Homo sapiens: one gene and its partner. The protein of the gene in region 1 purifies or fractionates together with the protein of each later gene. This does not show direct contact. Each region holds a gene or a part of one and is shown on either strand. Other genes may lie near its edges.

Region 1 (10,818 bases):
CAGCCTGGCCAAGATGGTGAAACCACGTCTCTATTAAAAATTAAAAAAAAATCATCTGAACATGGTGGCAGGCGCCTGTAATCCCAGCTACTGAGAAGGCTGAGGCAGAGAATTGCTTGAACCTGGGAGGCGGAGGTTGCAGTGAGCCGAGATGAAGCCATTGCACTCCAGCCTAGGCAACAGAGGGAGACTCCATCCCAAAAAAAAGGCCAGGCATGGTGGCTCACACCTGTAATCCCAGCCCTTTGGGAGGCCAAGGCGGGTGGATCATGAGGTCAGGAGTTCAAGACCAGCCTGATCAACATGGTGAAACCCCGTCTCTACTAAACATACAAAAATTAGCCAGGCATGGTGGCGTGTGCCTGTAATCCCAGCTACTAAGAAGGCTGAGGCAGGAGGATCGCTTGAATCAGAGAGGCAGAGGTTGCAGTGAGCCAAGATAGTGCCACCGCACTCCAGCCTGGCAACGGAGCAAGACTCCATCTCAAAAAAAGAAATTAAAAATAAAAACCTGATCTCATTTAAAAGACAGAAAAATCAGGGTGAATTTTATTGAACTCATGACAACAAACCCATGCCAACACTTACTATGGCTGACTGGTCACTACATTTAATCAGCCCAGGAAGTCTCATGCCATCTGTCATCATGTAAAACATTCAAGGCCAGACACAGTGGCCCATGCCTGTATTCCGAGCATCTTGGGAGTCCAGGTGGGAGGATCCCTTGAGCCGAGGACTTCAAGAGCAGCCTGGGCAACATAGCAAGACCCCGTCTTTACAAAAAATAAAAAAAAAATTAGCCAGGCTCTGTGGCTTACACCTGTAATCCCAGCCAGGAGAGGCTGAGGCTGGAGGATTGCTTGAGCTCAGGAAGTGAAGATGGCAGTGTGTCAGCCGGACACAGTGGTTCACACCTGTAATCCCAGCCCTTTGGGAGGCCAAGGTGGGTGGATCACCTGAGGTCAGGAGTTCGAGACCAGCCTAGCCACATGGCGAAACCCCATCTCTACTAAAAATACAAAAATGAGCCGGGCATGGTGGCAGGCGCCTGTAATCCCAGCTACTCAGGAGGCTGAGGCAGGAGAATCACTTGAACCCAGGAGGTGGAGCTTGCACTGAGCCGAGATCGTGCCATTGCACTCCAGCCTGGGGGACAAGAGCGAGACTTCATCTCAAAAAAAAAAAAAAAAAGACTGCAGTGTGTCATGGTCATACCACTGTACTCCAGCCTGGGCAACAGAGCAAGACCTTGTCTCAAGAAAATAAATCCAGGTTGTCCTGGCAACACTGTACTCCAGCCTGGGCAGCACAGCAAGACCTTGTCTCAAGAAAATATATCCAGGGTGTCCTATCCTCCTATAGCGGTGAATAAGGAGTGTTCACAACTGAGTTCCAGTACTTGTGTTTTTCTTTTCTTTTCTTTTTTTTTTTTTTTTTTGGAGACAGTTTCACTCTTGTTGCCCAGGCTGAGTGCAATGGCACCATCTCATCTCACCGCAACCTCCACCTCCCGGGTTCAAGCAATTCTCCTGCCTCAGCCTCCCTAGTAGCTGAGATTACAGGCATGTGCCACCACGCTGGGCTAATTTTTGTATTTTTAGTAGAGACGGGGTTTCTTCTTGTTGGTCAGGCTGGTCTTGAACTCCTGACCTCAGGTGATCTGCTTGCCTCGGCCTCCCAAAGTACTGGGATTACAGGCGTGAGCCTCCATGCCTGGCCCGTGTTTTTCTTTTTTCTTTTCTTTTTTGAGGCAGGTTCTTGTTCTGTTACCCAGGCTGGAGTGCAGTGGCATGATCATGGCTCATTGCAGCCTTGACCTCCTGGGCTCAAGTGATCCTCCCATCTCAGCCTCATAGTAGCTGGGACTATAGGCAAGCAACACCATGCCTGGTTAATTTCTTGTTTTTGTTTGTTTGTTTTTGGTAGGGACGGAGTCTCGCTCTGTCGCCCAGGCTGGAGTGCAGTGGCGTGATCTTGGCTCACTGCAAGCTCTGCCTCCTGGGTTCAAGCAATTCTCCTGCCTCAGCCTCCCGAATAGCTGAGAATACAGGCCCACACCACTACGCCTGGCTAATTTTTTTTTTTTTTTTTGAGACAGAGTTTCTCTTTTGTTGCACAGGCTGGAGTGCGATGGCCCAATCTCGGCTCACTGCAACCTCCGCCTCCTGCGTTCAAGCGATTCTCCTGCCTCAGCCTCCCGAGTAGCTGGGATTACAAGCATGGGCCACCATGCCCAGCTAATTTTTTAGTATTTTTAATAGAGACGGGGTTTCTCCATGTTGGTCGGGCTGGTCTCGAACTCCCGACCTCAGGTGATCCGCCCGCCTCAGCCTCCCAAAGTGCTGGGATTACAGGCGTGAGCCACCAAGCCCGGCGGCTAATTTCTTTTGTATTTTAGTAGAGATGGGGTTTTACCGTGTTGCCCAGGCTGGTCTCAAACTCCTGAACTCAGGCAATTTGCCTGCCTCGGCCTCCCAAATTGCTGGGATTACAGGCATGAGCCACCTTGCTCGGCCTGTCATTTCTTGTATTTTTTTGTAGAGACAGATGTCTCAACATGTTGCCCAGGCTGGTCTCCAATTTCTGGGCTCACGAATTCCTTCCATGTTGGCCTTCCAAATTGTTGGTTTTACAGATGTCAGCCACCACACTCAGCCCTTTTTTCTTTTTGTTAGCCACTTTTTTTTTTTTTTAGATGGATTCTCACTCTGTTGCCCAGGTTGGAATGCAGTGGTGCAATCTTAGCTCACTGCAACCTCTGCCTCCCAGGTTCTAGTGATTCTCATGCCTCAGCCTCCTGAGTAGCTGGAATTACAGGCATATGCCACCATGCCTGGCTAATTTTTGTGTGTGTGTATATATAAATATATATATATTTTTTTGTTGTTTGTTTGTTTGTTTTTGAAACAGAGTCTTGCTCTGTCACCCAGGCTGGAGCGCAGTGGCACGATCTTGGCTCACTGCAACTTCTGCGTTCTGGGTTCAAGCGATTCTCCTGTCTCAACCTCCTGAATATCTGTGATTACAGGCGATCACCACCACGCCTGACTAATTTTTGTATTTTTAGTAGAGATAGGATTTCACTGTGTTGGCCAGGCTGGTCTTGAACTGCTGACCTCAAGTGGTCCTCCCACTTCGGCCTCCCAAAGTGCTGGGATTACAGGCATGAGCCACAGTGCTTGGCCTCTAATTTTTTTTTTTTTTGAGGCAGAGTCTTGCTCTGTTGCCCAGGCTGGAGTGCAGTAGCGTGATCTCCCCTCACTGCAATCTCTGCCTCCCAGTAGCGTGATCTCCCCTCACTGCAATCTCTGCCTCCCGGGTTCACACCATTCTCCTGCTTCAGCCTCCTGAGTAGCTGCGACTACAGGCACCCGCCACCACGCCCAGCTAATTTTTTTGTATTTTTAGTAGAGACGGGGTTTCACCGTGTTAGCCAGGATGGTCTCGATCTCCTGACCTCCTGATCTGCCCGCCTCGGCTCCCAAAGTGCTGGGGTTACAGGAGTGAGCCACTGCGCCCGGCCTATTTTTGTATTTTTAGTAGAAACAGGGTTTCACTGCATTGGCCAGGCTGGTCTTACTCCTGACCTCAAATGATCCTCCCCTCTTGGCCTCCCAAAGTGCTGGGATTACAGGCATGAGCCACTGCTCCCAGCCACTTCTTTTTTCTTGATAGCATTAATTTTACTTCCATAGAAGATCAAAAAGTTGTCGTGGAAAACTTGGTCTTTTTATTTTTTAAATTTTTTTATTATTTACTTATTTATTTTGAGACGGAGTCTTGCTCTGTTGCCAGGCTGGAGTGCAGTGGCGCGATCTCGGCTCGCTGCAACCTCTGCCTCCAGGGTTCAACCTCTGCCTCAGCCTCACGAGTAGCTGGGACTGCAGGTGTGTGCCACCAAGCCCAGCTAATTTTTGTGTTTTTAGTAGAGACGGGGTTTCCCCATGTTGGCCAGGATCGTCTCCATCTCTTGACCTTGTGATCTGCCCACCTTGGCCTCCCAAAGTGCTGGGATTACAGGAGTGAGCCACTGTGCCTGGCCTGATCTTTTTATTTTAGAACCAATATTTATGGACTCAATCATTTAGAGACGGCGGGCGTGGTGGCTCACGCCTGTAATCCTAACACTTTGGGGGCCAAAGTGGATGGAATGCTTGAGCCCAGGCATCTGAGGTCAGACTCGGCAACATAGCCAGCCCTCCATCTCTACAAAAAAATAAAAATAAAAATTAGCTGGGCTGGTGGCCTGTGGCTGTAGTCTCAGCTACTCAGGAGGCTGAGATGGGAGGATCACCTGAGCCCATGAGGGGAAGGCTACAGTGAGTTATGATTGTGCCACTGCACTCCAGCCTGGGCGACAGAGCGAGACCCTTCACACACACACACAAAATTAGGTTAAAAAAAAAAAATGTTTTGGATCGCCCTGTGAGCAAAAGGAACAAGAACATTTACAGAGAGTGATTTTTGAGAATTGAGACTACCTTAATTCAGAATGTTTTCTGGTCCTGAATTTACCAGCTGAACTTCTCCGTTTTGGACAAGCCCCTTCATTTCTCCATGCCTTAGTTTTCTCACTTATACAACCTATTTCAGAGGACTGTTGTGAAGATGGAATGACTTAAGGTAGGCGAAAGTTTTTTAAAAAGTAATAAATGAGGGGCCAGTGTAAGATAGTGTTATTTTCTTGTTAATTAATACTATGCTTTTCTTGTTCATATTATAATCTTTTGTATGAGGATGAAAGGCTAAATTATCCAATAACGGCCATGGGAGGATCTCAAGATGGGATGAGCTTTTAGGTTCTGAGATTTGAAGCAAAGATTGGTAAGGAGACAACACCATAGGATGGAAGAGCTTGTGTTTTAGTCTCAGAAAGACATGAATTTGAATGTTGACTGTGGCACTTGTTGGACCAAATTATTCAACTTCCCTGAGGCTGGGATTCCTTTTCTATAAAACAGGGATGAAAATCTCGTGTTTTGCAGGATAATTGTGAAAATTAGAGATAATGTATGTAAAATTCTTGGCAGGTAGCACACACCCTATATGTGGGAAGCACTGTTAAAACACTCAGGGACTTGGGTTGAAATGTCCCGACATTTGTCTTTTGCTCTGTAAAAAATAATCTCAACCGGGCGCGGTGGCTCAAGCCTGTAATCCCGCCACTTTGGGAGGACCAGACGGGCAGATTGCTTCATTCTAGGAGTTCAAGACCAAGGATCGCGGATTGCTTGAGTCTAGGAGTTCGAGACTAGCCTGGGCAACATGGCGAAACCCCATCACTACGAATAATAGAAACAAATTAGCACGGCGTGGTGGCGCGACTCTATAGTTCCAAGTACTCGGCAGGATGAGGTGGGAGGATTGCTTGAGCCCAGGAGGTGGAGGCTGCAGTGAGCCGAGATCGTGCCACTGCACTCCAGTCTGGGCAAAAGAGAGAGAACTTGTCTCAAACAAACAAAAAAATGGCCCGGCGCGGCGGTTCACGCCTGTAATCCTAGCACTTTGGGAGGCCGAGGCGGGAGGATCACTTGAGGTCAGGAGGTCGAGACCAGCCTGGCCAACATGGTGAAACCCTGTCTCTACTAAAAACAAAAAAGTTAGCCGGGCGTGGTGGCGGGCGCCTGTAATCCCAGCTACTCGGGAGGCTGAGGCAGGAGAATCGCTTGAACCCAGGAGGTGGAGGTTGCAGTGAGCCGAGATCGCGCCACTAACACTCCAGGATGGGCTACAGAGCGAGACTCCGTCTCAAAGGAAAACAAAAAACAAACAAAAAAAAGTCATCCTGGTAGTTAAAAGATTTGTTAAAAAGGATGTTGAAATTATTTTGTCACGGAGCCTGGGAGTGTTTGTTTAATCAGTTACCGATAAAGTTTTGGTTAAAAAAAAAAAACTCGGTTTGTTCCGTTTCAATAAAGCTTTGCTCAAACGGGGAGCTCCGGGAGCTCATCGCGAGACTCAGGTGAAACGCGTTTCTAGTTTGGGACCTGATCTCGCGTTGTTTGATAAGCAGGGGAATGAGGTGAAAGCGAAGCACGAAACATCGCGAGAGGCTACTGGACTCTCGCGACGATTTCTGGGATTGCCCCTCCCCCCTTCCCCAAGTGCCGTTTCGGTTTAATCTAGTGTGTGACTGGGTCTGTGTGAGGGAGAGAGTGTGTGTGGTGTGGAGGTGAAACGGAGGCAAGAAAGGGGGCTACCTCAGGAGCGAGGGACAAAGGGGGCGTGAGGCACCTAGGCCGCGGCACCCCGGCGACAGGAAGCCGTCCTGAACCGGGCTACCGGGTAGGGGAAGGGCCCGCGTAGTCCTCGCAGGGCCCCAGAGCTGGAGTCGGCTCCACAGCCCCGGGCCGTCGGCTTCTCACTTCCTGGACCTCCCCGGCGCCCGGGCCTGAGGACTGGCTCGGCGGAGGGAGAAGAGGAAACAGACTTGAGCAGCTCCCCGTTGTCTCGCAACTCCACTGCCGAGGAACTCTCATTTCTTCCCTCGCTCCTTCACCCCCCACCTCATGTAGAAGGGTGCTGAGGCGTCGGGAGGGAGGAGGAGCCTGGGCTACCGTCCCTGCCCTCCCCACCCCCTTCCCGGGGCGCTTTGGTGGGCGTGGAGTTGGGGTTGGGGGGGTGGGTGGGGGTTGCTTTTTGGAGTGCTGGGGAACTTTTTTCCCTTCTTCAGGTCAGGGGAAAGGGAATGCCCAATTCAGAGAGACATGGGGGCAAGAAGGACGGGAGTGGAGGAGCTTCTGGAACTTTGCAGCCGTCATCGGGAGGCGGCAGCTCTAACAGCAGAGAGCGTCACCGCTTGGTATCGAAGCACAAGCGGCATAAGTCCAAACACTCCAAAGACATGGGGTTGGTGACCCCCGAAGCAGCATCCCTGGGCACAGTTATCAAACCTTTGGTGGAGTATGATGATATCAGCTCTGATTCCGACACCTTCTCCGATGACATGGCCTTCAAACTAGACCGAAGGGAGAACGACGAACGTCGTGGATCAGATCGGAGCGACCGCCTGCACAAACATCGTCACCACCAGCACAGGCGTTCCCGGGACTTACTAAAAGCTAAACAGACCGAAAAAGAAAAAAGCCAAGAAGTCTCCAGCAAGTCGGGATCGATGAAGGACCGGATATCGGGAAGTTCAAAGCGTTCGAATGAGGAGACTGATGACTATGGGAAGGCGCAGGTAGCCAAAAGCAGCAGCAAGGAATCCAGGTCATCCAAGCTCCACAAGGAGAAGACCAGGAAAGAACGGGAGCTGAAGTCTGGGCACAAAGACCGGAGTAAAAGTCATCGAAAAAGGGAAACACCCAAAAGTTACAAAACAGTGGACAGCCCAAAACGGAGATCCAGGAGCCCCCACAGGAAGTGGTCTGACAGCTCCAAACAAGATGATAGCCCCTCGGGAGCTTCTTATGGCCAAGATTATGACCTTAGTCCCTCACGATCTCATACCTCGAGCAATTATGACTCCTACAAGAAAAGTCCTGGAAGTACCTCGAGAAGGCAGTCGGTCAGTCCCCCTTACAAGGAGCCTTCGGCCTACCAGTCCAGCACCCGGTCACCGAGCCCCTACAGTAGGCGACAGAGATCTGTCAGTCCCTATAGCAGGAGACGGTCGTCCAGCTACGAAAGAAGTGGCTCTTACAGCGGGCGATCGCCCAGTCCCTATGGTCGAAGGCGGTCCAGCAGCCCTTTCCTGAGCAAGCGGTCTCTGAGTCGGAGTCCACTCCCCAGGTGAGCTATTTGTCTAACAGTCCTTCCTCATTTAGGGTGGGTTGCGAGGAATTGGCATTCAGCGTGTTAACATTGTCTGGAAGCCCGCAGTGTTCATCATTGACTAGAACACTTTGCTGTTGGCTAGTCATTCCAGTGTGTGAATCTGTCTCCCCTTAACCCAGAATTCGAGAAGTGAAGAGTACATAGGCCTCAAACCGCCAAAGGTAGGTACTTCCAGTGGTGGGGTCTTCAGTTGTAAGCTTCTGAGTGAGAAACGTCAAAGGCTTCTGCTTAGTGAGTGGATGGAGTTGATACTAGTTCCCAGAGCATGTCTAGCTATTTCTGTTGCTTAGTTTTATATTTTTAAAAATCACATTGGTATTTGTGCTTTAGACTCTATGGGACCTGGTTGAAGACTTAAGAAATTGGTATGGAAGTTACTTGCCTAGTTTATCCTATTTGTGTTGTCCACTGAATCCCCAAACCTGTACATTTATTCATTTCCTACTTGGCACTGTTTTAATTATTTACAAAAGATTCCTGTCTTTTAACTGATGTTTTAGTGGAAATTCAGCTGATTAGTCTGTTACCCTTTTAATGGTATAACCTAGCAGAAATTGGTTCCAAGGACAATTTGGTTTTCTTTACAGCATCATCACTGACCTACCTTGTGACCGCTGACAATTTTCAAAATCTTTCTCTAAAACACATAGTAATAATGCCTTCTTTATATTTTTGCGAGAAAGGCATGCTAGTTTGAAATTTTGTTGTTAGAGTGAATTATTTGGAAAACTGTGTTCTTGTTCCTAGGTAATGAGATGTATCTCCTTTGTGGCCTCACTTCTGTTCACAAAAACAGAATGTGGGCTTTAGTTAGACCTTTGTGGAATCCTAATGTTGCTTTGTGACCTTTAGCAAATGAGTTAATTTCTCCTTGCCTGAGTTGCTTCAGGTGTAAAATGGGAATAATAAATACCTACTTTTAAGGGTTGTGATGATTAAATTAGTCAATTTGAAGTGCATAGCACAGTGCCTTGTACATAATATCACTCAGTAAATTATGAGTGAGGATGTTGAACACTGGTAGAGAAATTGTGCTAATTTGAAAAAAATTCATGCATGACTTTTTTTTTTTTTGAAAGACAAGATCTTGCCCTGTTGCCTAGGCTGGAGTGCAGTGGCATCATCTTGGCTCACTGCAGCCTTGACTTCCCAGGCTCAAGCAATCCGTCCACCTCAGCCTCCTGAGTAGCTGGGATTACAGGTTCATGCCACCATGCCTGGCTAATTTTTTTTTTCTTTTTCTTTTTTTTTTTTGTAGAGACTGGGTTTTGCCCTGTTGCCCAGGATGGTCTTGAACTCCTGAGCTCAAGCAATCCTCCTGCCTCCCAAAGTGCTGGGATTACAGGCATGAGCCACCACGCCTGGCTCATGCATGGCTTTTGTATTTCAGTGTAATTTTTGCTGACTTAAAGTTACAATTCATAAATGGTGTGAGTACATCAAGCTGCAGAGTGTTCCTAGCTGTCAAGGGCTGGAGTTCTTAATGTTTCCTCCTCCATTTTATTATAAAAAATTTTCCAGCACAGAAAGGTTGTAGTGAACACCCATATATGTAACAGCAAGATTCTACAATAAATATTTGCTGTATCCAGGCTGGGCAACATAGTGAGGCCCCGTTCTCTACAGGAAAAAAAAAAAAATTAGCTGGTCGCGGTGGTGCACATCTGTAGTCCCCACTGCCTGGGAGGCTGAGGTGGGAGGATTGCTTGAGCCTAGGAAGTCAAGGCTGCAGTGAGCTGTGATCACACCACTGCACTCCAGCCTGAGCAACAGAGTGAGACCCTGTCTCAAAAAAAAAAAAAATTGGGCCAGGAGTGGCTCACACCTGTAATCTCAGCACTTTGGGAGGCCGAGGTGGGCGGATCACGAGGTAGGGAGTTTGAGACCAGCGTGGCCAATGTGGTGAAATGCTGTCTCTATAAAAATATAAAAAATTAGTTGGGTGTGGTGGCGTGCGCCTGTAGTCCCAGCTACTCGGAAGGCTGAGGCAGGAGAATCAGTTGAGCCCGGGAGGCAGAGGTTGCAGTGAGCTGAGATCGTGCCATTGCACTCCAGCCTAGGTGACAGAGACAGAGTAAGACTCAGTCTTAAAAAAAAAAAAAAAAAAGCCATGTATTTTGTAATCTATCTACCTGTCCATTAATCTATCTTTTATTTTCATTTATTTCAAAGTAAGTTGTAGACATCAGTATACTTCATTCTAAACACTTTAACATGTTTACCATTAGCTGGATTACCCTTTTTTTTTTTTTGGAGGGGTGAGGAGTAAAATTTATATACAGTAAAATGCCTAAGTCTTAAGTGTAGCATTTGTAAAGCTGCTTTGTTTTTTGTTTTTTTTTGAGACAGAGTCTTGTTTTGTTGCCCAGGCTGGAGTGCAGTGGAGCGATCTCGGTTCACTGCAACCTCTGCCTCTCGGGTTCAAGCTATTCTCCTGCCTCAGCCTCCTGAGAGTAGCTGGAATTACAAGCGCCCACCATCACATCTGGCTAATTTTTGTGTTTTTTTAGTAGAGACAGGGCTTTACCATGTTGGCCAGGTTGGTCTCCAACTCCTGACCTCAGGTGATCCGCCAGCCTCGGCCTCCTAAAGTGCTGGGATTACAGGCGTGAGCCAATGCGCACAGCCATGCTGCTTAGTGTTTTAAGGAAGTCTAAAAAGTATTCTTAGGATATTTGTTTCTTGATAGAGTAGTTCATTAAGGCTGTAAAAATTGTTAACTTTAGGGTATGGGAATAGAGAAGAGTGTGCTAAGACTAAAACACTAAAAGGAGTTTCAGTAAGAAGTGCTTCTTTCTAGTGATTCCTTTTGGATTCTTAGGTAAAACAGCATATCTCATGTTCTCTTAAGAGAGTAGAGGAGGCTGGGCGTGGTGGCTTATGCCTATAATCCCAAGCACTTTGGGAGGCCAAGGCGGGCAGATCTCCTGAGGTCAGGAGTTTGAGACCAGCCTGGCCAGCGTGGTGAAACCCCGTCCCTACTAAAAATACAAAAATTAGCCAGGCGTGGTGGCATGCACCTATAATCCCAGCTACTCG
Region 2 (10,248 bases), on another chromosome or scaffold:
ATTAGAGACACTGAAAATTGTGATGGTTTCATGACTCTGCAAATACTAAAAACGACTGATTTGTACAGTTTAAATGGGTAATTTGTACGGTATAGGATTATATTTCAAGAAAATACATATATACACATATAAATAAAATAACATTTTTAGAAGTGCAATAGGGCAGAAGGTGTAGAAACTGCAAGGGGTGGTAAAGAATGAACAGACTAGGAAATAGGTTATTCTTTTTTATTCATTTTTTAATTTTTTGAGACAGAGTCTCCCTCTGTCATCCAGGCTGGAATGCAGTGGTGCTCACTGCAACCTCCCGCCTCCAGGGTTCAAGTGATTCTCCTGCCTCAGCCTCCTGAGTAGCTGGGATTACAGGCATAAGCCACCGTGCCTGGCTGGAAATAGGTTATTCTTTTGAGGCATCTGTTCTCAAAGAGAGTAACAGGGAATAGTAGGGAGTAGGTTTTGTTATTGTTTTGGTTTTTATATATTTTTCAGCATAAAGGAGAATGAAAAATGTCTGCAGCCAGTAAAAACAAAAAGGAATCACTAGAGGAGTCAGAACAAGGGAGGCTAACTGGTCAAGGGATAATAAAAAGCACAGCAAGAAAGTTAACCTTAGAAAGAAAGCTCTTTCTTCCCCTGAGAATGGAAGGAAAAGTTTGAGAAAGATATTTTTAAATAATCTTTTAAGGGGGAGGAAGTAACTAAAAAATCTCAAGAGTACCTCCATATTCTCTAGGAAGTATAATGCCAAGATATCTGTTGAGGGGAAAGGGGCAGAACGGGGAACAGTGTTAGGAATACCCCAGTAGGGATGAAACTGGAATGGAAAAGAACCTCGGTCCACAAGCGGATAAATCGTAAGTATATTCAATTGTTTTACCTTCTGTAACTGGCCAAACTCCTGGTCCCTTTAGGTTCCAAGGCAGAATATAAACAATTCATGAAATGTAGTGAAAATATTATGGACATAAACAGAATAGAGACAGTCCTCAAAATCGTAGAACTCCCTGAAAAAGTTTTTGCCTCAGGTCTATAAACCTGTTCCCTATTACTCTTCAATTATTTTTTCACAAGACCCTAAAGTTGTAAGTTTTCTCATTAGTAGCTTGTGATTCCTCTGAAAATGACTGAGATTTATGAACTCTGCAAAATGAAAATCCATAAACAAGCAACCTGTCAAGGCATTTTAGCAGCACCTTTCAGGAATGTGCTTCATAAATATCATTTTACATCATAAAAGACTAAATATATTTTCAACATTTAGAATTATGGAAACAATAGTAAATGTCACCACTCAATTATCTCACCCAATATCGAAATCCCCTCTTAGTAATATTTGGCCACTTATCAATGAAACCTCATTAGTTTACAAAACAGCCTATGGCATTGCTGGGTATCAATAACTGGTGTTCACATAATTCCTGTATTCCTATATTGATTTTTATCTGTCCTGTTCATCCCCTAGATCTGCTACACAGATGGCATAAAATAATGCATGAATGAAATCTACCTTTTAGCGACTCTTTAACTTCTACCAGGGTCCTTAAACTAAGCCTTGAAAATACATTTCCCTTATCTATTGATTGTCTTTCAAACAGGTAAAAGCAATTTTTACATTCTCTTCTCTAGGGTAAACAAATCTAACCATTTTTCTCATCATGATTTTTCTTTTTTTTTAGTGTTTCAAGTCCTCCCTAAATATTAGGAATCAAAACAGATATGATGTGCATAGCACATGGGAGGGGGGTGGTAACTAACATGCAGTAACATGTCCATTGTGTGTCTGCTGCGTTGCAGCATGTCTGCAAGCTAGTTTTCTTATCCTCACAATTTATCACTGAGAAAATGGAGCCAGAGACACGAAACAACCTGACTAATTCACAGCTAGCAAGCAGCATCACAACTAGTCTTACTTTATACCAAGATACTGCCTTCCCTCAATCTAGACACTGCTTTTCTTCTGTTTAAGTGGAATGTTACATCCTAGAACCACTTTTGTCAAGCCAGGAAAACTCAGGTTTTGTAAATGTAATCACACCAAGTAAATTTATTTATTTTTTATTTTTTTTGAGACAATCTCACCTAGTAAATTTATATCTGGCCAGTTCTGGCCTATTATTATATTTCAGCCTTTAAGAAATCTTTGATTTCTGAGTGTCATCTAATTTGCTCATTATCACTACATGGTTTGAGTGCATTTATTAACTTGAGAATCACGCTGCTTATCTATTTAAAGTTGGTATTAAGAAAGTGTTAATCCGAGTAAGGGCAAGACCAGAGTCCTGTAGCATATCTCCAAAGACATCTCCCCAGGCTTACATCAACTCATTAATCAACATTTCGGGTTTGGTAATTTGCATGGATATAAATCCATCTAACCACACCTTATCCAATGCACATTTAACTCTTGTGTCTACACACAGTATTAGAATCTTGTTGGAAGACTATGTCCTAAATAAACTTAAATGAACTTATGTCCAACAATCCCCAATCACCACCAGTCTAGTAAACTGTAACAAAAGGAAATATGATTTGTGTCACCTGGCTTTTTCTTGAGACAGGGTCTTGCTTTGTCGCCCAGGCTGGAGCGCAGTCACCCGATCACGGCTCACTGCAGCCTTGATCTCTCAGACTCAAGTGATCCTCCTGCCTCAGTCTCCCAAGTAGCTACTACAGGCATGCACCTCCACATCTGGCTAATTTTTTGATTTTTTTTTTGTAGTGGTGAGGTCTCACTATGTTGCCCAGGATGGTCTTGAACTCCTGAGCTTGTGTGATCCTCCAGCTTTGGCCTCCCACAGTACTGGTATTATAAGCGTGAGCCACCACCTCTGGCCTCACCTGGCCTTTTCTCACTGAAGCTCTGCTGGCTTCAGGGAATCAGCTCTCCTTTCCCAAGTACTCATAAACTTGTTGGCTCTTCCAACAAGATTCTAAAACAGATTATTAATAGGTTCCTAGTAGCCAAGAGCCATCGAATGGTTCTATGTGAAAACAGACATTTACCAGATTCTAGTCTTCTATCATTAACTGTACTTTTAGGATTTTTCAAAATCTAAGAATAACGATTTTATAAAGTCATCTGCAAATACTCTGGTATACAATTTACCTGAGCTTAAAAATATGATCACTCTGTAATCTCCTCAATTACCTTGAATTTAATTCCTCTAGATTTTTTTGTCCTTATCCAATTTTAAAGAAAACAAGCAGAAAACACTGTCCTCCCTTTCAGACACTCAGCAGAGTCACTGCTTTCAAATATAATGTCCTGAAATGAACTAGCCCATTTTATAGGCCACAGCTATGACCAATTTTTCTTTATGACATTCAATTTTAGAAACAGCATTTAAAATTTAAGAACCTCATTAACAACTCGAATAGTTTTTATTGCTTGTTAGTGCAAACTACATTTTCAAAATGGAACAAATTTAAACAGGATTTGCCCAGAAATCAACTAATATGCTTGAATAATGCATCACAATATAATCGAAATGAGATAAAAGAGGGAAAAAAACCCTAAAAGACACCAGCGGTGGTCACTCTGAATAAGACAATCTTGGATAATTATTATATTCATAGTCAAGATTATTTAACAGGTAAGCATCCTAAGGGCACTTTAATCCAAATGTCTATCAATACTACTACCACTACCATCATCCATCCATTCTTTCATTCAGCAATACAGAGGGCTTATTAAACGTCAGGCAGTGTTCTAGGCGCTGAAAGCTCCTCGCTTTCATTCTAGCAACATCATTCATACAAACCTTTAGCGGGCACCTACAACTGCAAGGCATTGTGCTAGGTATCTGTAAACAGCGATTTAGATCGAGATACACAAACATCACCAAGTTTCTCTTAAAAACACAGAAGACCACCCTTAAGAAATGCTCTTAGAAATAGTTCCTAACCTCAGATGACTTAGCGAAAGCTCCGTTTAACTGGCAGTCTAAATTTAGGGAGCATTACCGAGCCTATCTTGGGCAGACAATCGTTTAGGAGCTGTCACATAACCTCTAGACTTACGCTCCAATTTTCTAAAGAACAATTTCTCTCATAACAAACCAAATCAACCACCAGGAGCGGGTCCGTAAAGACGATGTCTGGGCAAGAACGAAATCTAATCCCGGAAGTGCCTTTTCCTCATCTTAGCCGCACCCTCGTTACGTGGCTCTCCAAAACTCCAAAGTCGGAGTACCCTAGACATGGAACAACCTCCAAAAAGTTTCAGGCCTAGCCAAGGTTGGGACTAATACGCCGCGAAATAATCGGGGAGATATGAGAAGTCTGTGGCTGTGAGACTGTGCGCGGTTAACACCGCTGCCCCTTTTGCCCAACCCCTAGAAAGTTCCCCAACTCTGACTGCCCCCCAGTGCGAGGGCCGCTACCAGTTCTAGGGTGAGTCCGGCCTCCCTGCCCCGCCCCGGCGCCTCAGACCCTCTCTACACGCCCGCCCCACAACCCCGCGTCGCCCGCAAAGTTCAATGTGTACCGGAGGTTAGCGGAGGGAGGCAGAATCCGGAAAGAGAGACTCCGCCAGTGGATAGCGGCGGTTGGCCATAACCTACTCCGACCTCCAGATACGCGGGAGGTGGGCGGCGCTGCCCTCAGTCGGTGGGTCACTCACCCCTCGCTTCAGGCAAGCCCCTCAGCGACGTCTCTCCTTGCCGACTGCGGCCATCTTGTATATGGAATGTCGGGGACCTACGTCATCACGCTGCGTCCTGAGACGCCACCAAGCGACCGGAGGGGCGGAGAGAGTAGGATGCCTGTCAACCAATGGGAAGAAAGCAGAGCTCTCAAAAGAGGAACGAGCCGCCGCTCTCCTCCCCGCCCGCCCCGCGGGTCAGTGGCTGCTGCTTACAGAGGGAGGAGCCAGCCACAGGGCCCATCCCGTCGGTCCCGCCCCTCGGGGCGAAAAGGCATTCTGGAGCAACCGAACCTGCTAACGGAACTTGGGCGCGTAGGCGGGGCCCGGGTCGAGATTCGTCCAATCAAAGCTCTGGCGGGGGCGAACGCAGCCAGTTGCGACATCGTGGTTGGCGGCGGCTGAGCCGGCCGCTCTTGCCCCCGGGAGCTGCCAGCCCACTGGCTGGGGAGGACCCCGAACGGAACGCCGGCTGGGTGGCGGGGCGGGGCCGCGCCCATGCGTCCGAAGCGTGGGCCAATGAACGGCGGCGGCTGCGGCCCGGGGGCGGGGTCCGGGGCGGGAGGAGAAGCGTTGGGCCGCGGTCGCGGGGCCGTCTCAGGCTGCCGTCCCGCCCCTCCCGTCCGGCCGCCGCCGCCGCCACCGCCGCCACCGCCTGGGGGTTGGTTGAGGCGGACGGCGGGGTCCGGGCCGGAGTACGTCGTTCCCGCTGCGCTAGGGGAAGCGGGCAGGTGAGTGCTGGCGGCGGTCTCTGCGCCCGCGCGGCCCGCGGGGGAAACTCGCGCCGCGTCTCCGAGCTCTGCGAGGCCGTCCCTCGCCCTGGCCAGCGCCCCTCGGCCGAAGTCCGGCCCGCGCCCCCGCCAGGGTCCCCGCCGGCCGCTGTGGCCCCGGGGCTTGAAGGGGCAGGTGTGCGCTCGGGGGCCAGGGCGAGGAGGGCCCGGCGGGGTCGGAGGGCGCCGGTCGGCCTCTGCCCGGGCGCCCTGCGGGGCGAGAGGCGCGCGCTCGCCGCTGCCCTGTCCCCTCTGGCGCCCACGCTCCCGGGCCCCGCGCCACCCGGTCTCGAGGTGGTGCCAGGTGCAGGCAGCGCTCTCCCCGAGCTTGCCCCGCTGTCCCCGGCCCTCGCGCCTGCTCTCGGGTGGGGCCCGGGCCCCTCGCGCTAGTCGGCTCGGCTCTGCGCGCGGCCGGGTCGCGCTCCCATTTCCTTCCTTCCTCCCGTCACCCCGCTGCTCGGGGAAGGCTGTGCGGTTTTATGTTCCTCTCTGCGAGTTCTCGGTGCCCACCAGGGTGCCCGGGGACCAGCCCCCGCCTCCTCCCGCGCCGTCCAGTTAGGAAGACGGACGTAGGAAATAGGTCGTCTTTCTTCCCACGCGCCCCTGGCCGTGCTCCACACGCGCAGTGCCCTACTAGGGAGAGGCAATTCGGTGCTTTAGAGTTTGTCATTCCGGCGTTAACTCTTCCTCCTCGTGGCTCCAGCCCGGCGATGCAACTCTTGTCTTTTCCCGGTCTCCACTTGGGAAAAGGAGCTGACAGTGACGCGCGCCCCTGGCTGCGGGGCTCACCCCTGCCCGGCCGGTGTTGGGAGGAGGGCATTTCAGTGTTGCAAAGGCATTCGCGGGTTAGGACCACTCGGACCGTGTTATTTTGCTTTTCTAAATAAATAAGGTGATGTTTCAAAAGCAAAAATACTTTTAAAGTATGCTGACAAATCAATTTTGCTTTTAAGAATCCTCGAAGAGTTACCCCATCTTCGTAGCCTGATTGTGGTGCTGATGAGGCCACTATAAATGCGTTTGTCAGAACTCAGAACCGGACACTGAAAAGTGTGAATTTTATCTTATGTAAAATATACCTCTCCCTCTCCCGTTTTTCTTCTTGAAATGACCTTGCCAGTATTTCAAAACTGAACTAACCAGTAATAATCTCGGAGAAGTGTTTATTATTTTAAGCGAATACATTTAACCCAAGAATATAGCAAAATAAAGCAGTCTTCCTCTCCACTGTTAAAATTTGCCAAGACTTGCTTGAACCTTGCTGTATGTACTGTGTTTATACGGGCTACCATGCGTGAAAGTCCAGCAGTACTGGATTAGTCCCAAGGGCTGCCGTGATTGATACTTTGGTGAAATTCCAACAGTTTACCGAGGAGTTTTTCTTCGGCCTAAGAAAGTAGTTTGCAAAGCCAAGTTCTCAAACAGCTACAGAACCTCTTTATTGGGACCCCAGACAACCTTGGATTTTAGCCTTCTGCTACCCCTTTCCTGTCTGCCCTCCAAGTGATTGTAAGTTAATATCTGAAATGGAACTGTAGTCTGAAGGAGTAAAATGGTTGCTTCTCCAGTGTGCTAACATCTCAGTGCTTTTTTTTCCTGGAATTGGAGTGGTGTTGGATTTGAAGATTAGAACATCTTATGTCTGTATGTACGGTTATAGCGAAAGCTTCTCGTAAGAGCACAGTGACTGTCAGTAAGAAAGTGATGGCTGCTGCGCTGCTCTTCCGTGCCGTGGACATTTAGGCCACATTTTAAATGATAATTAAGCTTTTGCTTTAGAAGCCACTGGATAATGAGAAAAATATGGAGGTGATATTTTTCCTATTTAAAGCTTAACCACTGGACAACTGTTTTGGTTTTGAGAGTTCTGATAAACGGTCACAACAGCCTCCTTGGAACACAGTACTCTCCTGCCTGGAGGAGAATGACAGGATGACGGCGCCGGGGAAGGTATGACCATCAGCGACGGAGGCTTGCTTGGAGTGAATATTTAGTAGACAATCATTGAATTCAATGAAAACCAGGTGCATAGTTTGTGCTGTGTAGAGTTGTAGTAAAAATATGAGCAAAAATCCTACCTCCAAGTCAGGGTTACTCTGAATGCTTTGTGACTAGATGTCAGTGTAGTTTGAGGCGTACCAGTTTTCTTCAATGTTTTAATTACATAGAGTCTTTTTTCTTATCACAAATCCGAAGTAGGGTTTAGAACTGTAACTAGTAATACTGTATCTTTCTTTTGTGTAGTTGGATGAATATCCTTCTCTGAGAGGTTATTTATCTTTAGAGACTGGTTTGCCTGTTCCCTGGCTGCTGTGCCTTGTGCTTCTGTTGAGGGTGGAGAGGAAGAGTTTCAAGTGTGTTTCTTTCCCTTGGACCGAAGTCCTGGGAATGGAGTGGTGACTTTGTTCCCTCAAAGAGAACTCGGAGTCATTTATTGCTATGGCATTAAATGTTTTTAACAGAACGGTGAACTTATCTTTATTCTTATGTTACTTTGGATGTTGCTTGTGGCCAGTTATAATATTTGCTTTCTCAATTACCTACCCTTATTTTTGGGCCCTTTTTTTATCAGTGAAAAATCTTTTGATTAGCCGTGCATCTTTTCTCTCCTGCTATAGTCATAGAAGTGTTTATCTGGCTAACAGTTTGTTTTGGGTCATATTTAACCAGTCGAGAGTATTAGAATAAAGAGTCTTGCTTTTTCAGTTTTCTATAGTTTTCACTTCTGTTGCCTTTACAATGGTTTTCTGTCATTGGATTTCCTTTTATCATCTCATTTTTCTATTCATAAATTGGAGAGGTTAACTAATTTGATATGCAAATAGAATTAATTTACATAATATTTACTCTCAAGGTAAAAAATTTCTATCAAAATATTAATATATATTAATATATTTTCCTATTACAAAGAAGTTGAGACTTGGCTTTTTTTTTTTTTTTGAGATGGAGTTTCGCTCTTGTTGCCGAGGCTGGAGTGCAATGTCGTGATCTCGGCTCACCGCAACCTCTGCTTCCTGGGTTCATTCTCTTGCCTCAGCCTCTGAGCAGCTGGGATTACAGGCATGCGCCACCACGCCTGGCTAATTTTGTATTTTTAATAGAGAAAGGGTTTCTCCATGTTGGTCAGGCTGGTCTGGAACTCCCGACCTGAGATGATCCGCCCACCTCAGCCTCCCAAAGTGCTGGGATTACAGGCGTGAGCCACCGCACTGGGCTGAGACTTGGCTTTTTAAAAAGTTACTTAATAGTCTTTTGAAAAAAAAATTAGCATCTGCAAGATTAAGAAGTCTTGCTTTTTAACTCAAGCCAGAGATTAGCTGTGTTGACCCCGTTTCCACTTGGGAGTCTCCTCTAAGTTTTGGATATAAACAGACTGTAAAAACGAGATAAAAACACAGATATTGAACAGTTTCGACTGAGATAAATTTGAATGGAAGAAAACTGATTCCAAATGATTATAAAATTCAAATACCAAAGTTAAGACTTTGCAATTTTTTTTTTCTTCTATCAAGTACTTTCCAAGTAGAAGTGAACTAGTGAGTCCAAACAGTCTTGGTTGACAATGAAAGACACATCTATCTTTGAAGTTAAGATTTTGAAAGGGATCTACTGATTACTAAGCCAAAGTGAATCATTAGCCTTTTGCAAGCCTAACCTCAGTACTGGGATGGGGAAGTAGGGGAGGGCAGAGGGACAGAGCAGGAAGAAATGTTTCCACTGTTTTTTAGAAGGACAAAAAAAATTGTCTAGAGAATGTAGATAATCAAGTGTCTACACGGAACTTTTTATTTTTAGTTTTTAATTGACAAAAATATATGATACATAGAACTCTTAATAAAATATACACTTAGGTTTATTACTGTCTATGATCCTGAGTTTCACGTTCCATTTTTTAAGAATACAATTCATCAGGACATAACAGGTCTAAGAAAGTCTTCCGACTAAATGGTTTACAATGTTCAGTCTCAGAAAATAGACATGCCTTTTCAATATCAGCAGTTTTCTATTACACATATTTGAGAGGAAGTAAAGATTAGTGTTGACAAATACTTATAAAAGCTGCTTTTACCATAAAATATTTACTAGTGTCTAATAACATTTTTGATTTGTTGTTTGTAAAAATTTAGCTTCGCTGCATGTCATGGTCACCTCATGGTTCTGCGTTTTTCCCTGCAACAAAAATGTGGCATTGCAGATATGGTGGACTGGATGGAAGCTCTTTTGGAAGTTTTGCCCATGTCCCAAATTTAACCTGCAGCTCCTCCTATGTATTTGGACAAAGCCAGCAAAATAACTATACTTTTAAAAGGCCAAAAAATAAAACCTTTACATGCGTATGTTTTATCAGTGCAAGGGAATAGTATTTTGAATATTAGCGATAACAGTGAACCTTTGGAGCTCTCATAAATGGGTTGGTTTTGAGCCGAACTCATGAAATATTATTATCAGTAAGATTTGTCATTGAGGTGTGCTGGTGAGGCTCTGACACAAACTGAGTCTATCATTTTGCATAAATTAATCAGTCTCCGTAAGCGTCAGCTTTCTCATCTGTGAAGGGGACTTGTTAATACCTATCTTATATTGTGTAAAATGCTTACCTCAATTCCTGATCATATAATAAATGCCCAAATGACATGATTGTGATGGGGACGATCATATTGGAGAACTTCCATAGGACACAGGACATGGCAAGGATGATCCTGAAATAACATGACAGCATGAATAGTTGCATTTAGGTTCAAAAACTCAGTTGTTGAATATAGCACATTTATCTTGCTGAAGATCACGAAAGGCTTTAGTTGATTACTGTCTTGTCCTAAAGGCTATGGGACCATG

What was found.
Region 2: the proteins of CDK12 (region 1) and CCNK purify together in Homo sapiens (affinity purification with mass spectrometry; 6 studies listed by BioGRID and IntAct, with this or other methods). This does not show direct contact.

What each region holds. Positions count from the first base shown.
Region 1 is NC_000017.11:39,455,384-39,466,201, forward strand, and holds the start of CDK12 (cyclin-dependent kinase 12), read left to right. Parts: upstream 1-6,102; 5' UTR 6,103-6,688; coding exon 6,689-7,734; intron 7,735-10,818. UniProt on the Homo sapiens protein: Cyclin-dependent kinase that phosphorylates the C-terminal domain (CTD) of the large subunit of RNA polymerase II (POLR2A), thereby acting as a key regulator of transcription elongation.
Region 2 is NC_000014.9:99,475,853-99,486,100, reverse strand, and holds the start of CCNK (cyclin-K), read right to left. Parts: upstream 4,693-10,248; 5' UTR 4,622-4,692; exon of another isoform or gene 4,487-4,621; intron 1-4,486. UniProt on the Homo sapiens protein: Regulatory subunit of cyclin-dependent kinases that mediates activation of target kinases.